2 separate regions of the Homo sapiens genome follow, and region 2 is linked to region 1. A link means that fine-mapping ties the variant in region 1 to the expression of a gene that starts in the linked region. Tissue or cell type: pancreas. Region 1 holds a variant in brackets; the other region holds the start of a gene. All regions are shown on one strand. Distances are from middle to middle.

What was found. PIP is the estimated chance that this variant, and not a neighbour inherited with it, causes the effect.
Region 2: it holds the start of ATE1, and the variant in region 1 is fine-mapped to the expression of ATE1 in pancreas (GTEx, PIP above 0.99).

The regions. Positions count from the first base shown.
Region 1 is chr10:121,836,787-121,839,460 of GRCh38, forward strand. ATE1 (arginyltransferase 1) reads right to left here. Exons shown (of 12, transcript NM_001001976.3): 10 at 1-31. Among named protein-coding and RNA genes, the nearest start is that of ATE1, 90 kb to the right of the region's middle. The variant G/C (reference allele first, on the strand shown) is at 1,516.
Region 2 is chr10:121,926,987-121,929,660 of GRCh38, forward strand. It overlaps ATE1 (arginyltransferase 1), which reads right to left and starts at 1,045. Exons shown (of 12, transcript NM_001001976.3): 1 at 858-1,045. The coding sequence starts at 963. It also overlaps the pseudogene ATE1OSP. RefSeq lists enhancers at 257-406, 945-1,811 and silencers at 717-1,136, 1,327-1,626.

The DNA of each region.
Region 1 (2,674 bases):
CTCATGAAGCTGCCTAGTAAAAGCAATTTCTCTGCGAAAAGAAAAAGAAGAAAGCTGAAGGCAGTTAATTCTGGTTCTAATGTACAAATATCTGTGTAATTTGATGGTAAACATTTGATAAAATCTGGTATTAAGCTATCAAAAAATTACAAATATTGAAAGAAAAACTACTTTTAAAACACTATACAATTTTTACTAAAGAAATAATAAAACCCTCTACATAATTTTAAGCAAATGCATCTAAGTTCAGGTTTTACACTTTATTGGACAAAGTAGCTGATCTAAACTTCAAGCAGCATAAAATTAAAGAGATCTACAGTGTCCTGTTATTATTCATCATGCCCTATGGTTCTCAAAGAATCTGGGCTTAACAGGTTAAAAACAGTACAGCACATTTTAGAAAACTCAAAAGCCAATAAATTACAGGACGAATAACTATTATTATGACCATTTACATGCAAAGACTTTCAGCTGCATATGACATCTAATTCATTCCTTTATCTAGGCACAACTTTAATATTTATTTCCCCTAAAACTAGACAGCAGGAAATACCATGTTATCTCACCACATTTTCTGTATTTGTTGGAATAAGCCAGGTAACTCAAACGTAAGAAGTTGTCAGTCTCTCCACTATAACGCCTATGCATGAATTTTTTTTCATTTGCATCCTGATAAATCTTGGCACAGAATTTCATTCTACTTGCCCAGCTAAATGACTAGTTTGAAAGTGCTTAGTAAAACTTCAGTATATTTCTAAAGTATGAGGAAAGTAGTTTTGTTTTTATGTTTGTTTCTTGAAGGTATTCTTTTCTTTATTAGTAGCAATTGATGCTTGAAATTCTAAAGAAATGTATTTGTAATGCAATATTCTGTGCATTTTTCTACTTCAAATTTAAATCCTTAAAGAATTATTACCGTAAGAATTCATTTTTAAATTAAAATTATTTCTAAATCCAACCAGACTAAACAATATTAGCCTATAACAGAATAAATCCTATTTCCAGAATTAATCCACTCTCAAAGTTCAAACTGAGGAAAGAATGCACTGACACAAGCAAGCGTAAGACCACCAATTCCGAGAAGGCCCACCCAGCCAGGGTACCAATCCACTTGGTCCTGCCCACGTCAGTTCATTTCATCACCTCTCTCCGGATTTGTTCTGGCCCCAAACCTTGGAGTCACCCTTAATTCTTTTCTTCTCATCCCAATGTCCAATCCATCAGCAGGTCTTTTGGGCTTTCTCTCTAAAATATGTCTTGAATCTGACCACTTCTTACCACCTCCACCTCAGATATTCTGGGTCAAGCAGCATTATGGTGCCCTTGGATGACTGCAGCAGCTTCCCAGCAGCCTCCTGTTTCCACTCTTACCCCTCCATAATCTCCACAGAACAGGCCAAGTAATCTTTTACAATATTAATCAGATCTCCCAATCCCCCACCCCAGCAGTGGGTTGGCACCACATATAAATAAAACCCAACCTCCCCACCCTCCTACAAGTGCTATTCCACCTGC[G/C]TCCTTCTCACCAACTCCACCTGCCTCCTTCTCACCAGCTCACTCCACCTGCCTCCTTCTCACCAACTCCACCTGCCTCTGTGCCCCTTGCATAAGGCTCTCTACGTCCTTCCCTACACCCGAGCCCAAAAGGCATTTTTGTTTTTCCTGGCCACCTCGAGGCACTTAGATTTGCTAACCTTCACTTGAACTTCTTCCTACCCTCAGATTTTTACATGACTGATTCCTTTTCTTCTTCCTTTGCCCCTGAAATGTCACCTGTTCTCTACGAGGAAAGACCAATCTATATAAAACAGGCTTCATGCCCACCACCTCTAATTTTATTTGTGTCACAGTGCTAGGGAGTATCTGAAATTAAGTTGTCTGTTTTATTATTTATGGTCTGCTTGGACAAACCAGAAACCTGTCTTATTCATGTCTATGAGTGTAATTACCTTTTTAAAATGTATCTTTCTAAAAATATGCAAACAAATGCCATGCTCATGATCCCCAATTCAAACAATTCTTATATCTACAGGCTATGGATAAGCAGAGGCTGATTACAAAAATGAATTAAAAAAATAAAAAAATAAAAATCTACAGGCTACATTATATAAATCTAAAAACATAAAACTATATTGATTGTTGGATTGCTTAAGAAACTTAAGAAATTGAGGGTAAAATATTTCACCAAAATACATTAAAATCAATAACAGAATTAGCAACTGGTAACCTACTTTCTCCAATTTTGCTTCAAGAGGTCAATCCCCTGGCTGCCTTTCCTTTTCTATAAACTCCGCAACTCATCTTCTCAAGAGCACCAAAAGGAAGTGACAAGACCGCAGAGCAGCCGCAACCATCCCACCCTCAACTGGCAAACCTTTCATGACCTCAGGCTCCTCTCCTGCTCCCTCCCGGCTCTCCAGCTCTAGTATTTGCAGGGATATACAAGGTGATCAATAGAACTCTTGCTAATTTTGCTGGGAATTAATTATTTACCATATCAATATCTAAACTATCACTCAGTTTATTGAGCCATGAAATATTTCAGACACAGGCCAGAGCTTATTATGTAGAAATAAATTTCACCCTTAAAAATCCATCTGAGAAGCCTAGAAAAATCTATAACACATTGTGAAGTGATAATACAAAAATAAAACCAAACAAAACAAAAAACCAG
Region 2 (2,674 bases), 90 kb after region 1:
CACTTACACCTTTTTCATGGAAAATGCCTGTGTGTTTTCATGCGAATCTCGTTTTCCACAAAGCTAGACTGTTCTATTAAAATAATAGAGTCTACATTCTATATTGGCAAATGCATGGCAAGAGAGGAAATAAACACGATGTTTTGTTTACCAGCAACAAATCTCCCCCAAAGAAATCTGAATCACGATGGAAAAACAAAACAAACTTGTGGGCTGGCTTTGCTGTCGTCCGGGTGGGTGGAGGAAAGACACGGCATATAAGCAAATGGTAAAAATTTCAAACAGATCAGGACAAACAGAATCCCTCGCCGGTAGCGACCGCGGTCACCAGTTTCTTGTCCTTTTTTTTTTTAACTTTTTTTTTTTTTAACCCAGAGATGCAAAGGGCTCATCCTTCCTGTACATTCGTCCAGGGAAGTCTGATTCATACATGACCGGCACCTGTGTGCACACCCACAGCTCCCTCTGCACCGCGTTTCGCCCTCGCTCCCGGGACGCTCCCACCGCAGCACCCACCGGTCAGCCCCGGCCATTAACTACGGCTCTGGGGCGTTCCCTGGCACTGCGCGCCGTCCTTCACCTCACACAATCTACCCCAGACGGGCGTCCGTCTCCCGACTCTGGGGAGACCACCACGATTTCGAGAGTACGGGCACCGGTTAGGATTTTCCTGCAGAACAGGCACCGCGAAGCTGCCCCGCTAAGCCGGCGCCGCGGCCCTCCCGAGAGTGCCCCCTCCGTCTCGGCCGTGGCACTGGGGCCAGGGGCTCCGGCCCCCTCGCGTCCTCGCTGGGGGACCCTGGGATCCCGAGACCCGGGCGCCCGGCTTCCCACGCCCGCCGGCCCGGCTCGCTCACCATTGGAGCGGCTGCCCGACTCGTTCTTGCAGTAGCCGCAGCGGTAGAAGTCCTCGCTAGGGAAATAGTCCACGACGCTGGGCGAACCCCCCGCCCAGAAAGCCATGGCCTCGGCCCCGCGAACGCTCAGCCGCCCGGCCCCGCGTCGCTAGCGCGGCCGCCGCCGCCACCCCACAATGCAGCGCGCCGCCCGGGAGCCTCCCGAGGCTCGCGCGAAGCCACTCGGGCGCCCGCAGGCCCGGCCGGCCCGGCGCCTCTTGGAGCTGACGCCGCCCGCGCCATCTTGACCGAGGGCAGCTTTCCACTATTTCCGTTCCTTCTCCATAAGGGGCCGCCGTCGTCAGTGAGGGTGAGGCGGAGAGACAGAGCGGGAAGGGAAACAGGATGGGGAGAGTCAAGAGGGGAAGGGAAGCGGGAGTCGGGGTGCGAGCCTGCCCTTTCCCCCGCCGAGGGCCTGTGCGGGGCGCGGCGGCCGCGCCAACTCCGGCGTCGGGAACACTCACCGCAGGACGCTTTGCCCTCCTTGGAATCGCAGTAGCCGCAGTGGTAGCCGGCCCTGAGGCCCTTGTATTCCACCACCGACGCCATGGCCGCCGCGAGGGTCCGCTCGGGCCGACCACGCCTCTTGGCGCCCGGGGCCGACCTCGGCGAAGCGCTGGGGCCCGCGGCGGGAGGGGTGGAGAGCGAAGCCTGGCGCGGGGACCCGTGGGCGGGGATGGTGGTCGTGTCCCCAAGCCCTGCGTTTGGGCCGGTGCTTCCCACAGCTGTGCGTTATCAGCCCCATTTCACAGGTAAGGAAACTGAGGACCGGAGGTTGTGATTATCCCAAAGTCATTCCCGGCGGGTCTCGGATTGAAAGTCAGGCCGCCCCTGGCCACCGTGTAAGTGACTTGCTGGAGCTGCTTCCAGACCAGCTGGCACGCACTCCAGTGCCCTGAATACAAGAACACAAGCAGGTATTCCGTGAATGGCGAGGGTTCGCAAATTAAAGAACTCTTAACGGCTTTTAAAGGAAACAACTGTCAGCTAGAGACAGTTGCTGTCTTGTACCACTATAAGTCCGGTGCCTCATACGATTTTTAATGAGATGCTGGAAATACAGGGTTTGTTTGTTTTTTTTAACTCTACAGTCCAAACAAAACAGTTTTACAGGCTGAATCCAGCCCATGGGCCTCCATTTTGCAACCACTATTTTAAGGAAGATTTAAGGAATAAGAGTCTAGGGCAAAATATAAAATTGAGGCTCATGCCTGTAATCCCAGCACTTTGGGAGGCCGAGGCGGGCGTATCATGAGGTCAGGAGATTGAGACCATCCTGGCTAACACGTGAAACCCCGTCTCTACTAAAAATACAAAAAATCAGCCTGGCGTGGTGGTGGGCGCCTGTAGTCCCAGCTAGTCGGGAGGCTGAGGCAGGAGAATGGTGTGAACCCGGGAGGCGGAGCTTGCAGTGAGCCGAGATCACGCCGCTGCACTCCAGCCTGTGTGACAGAGCAAGACTCCATCTCAAAAAAATTTTTTAAAAAATGAGTTCCAGGGGCGGGCGCGGTGGCTCACGCCTGTAATCCCAGCACTTTGGGAGGCCGAGGCGGGTGGATCACGAGGTCAGGAGATAAGAGACCATCCTGGCTAACATGGTGAAACCCCTTCTCTACTAAAAAATACAAAAAATTAGCGGGACGTGGTGGCACGCGCCTGTAGTCCCAGCTACTCGGGAGGCTGAGGCAGGAGAATGGCGTGAACCCGGGAGGCAGAGCTTGCAGTGAGCAGAGATCGCGTCACTGCACTCCAGCCTGGGCGAAAGAGCGAGACTCCAT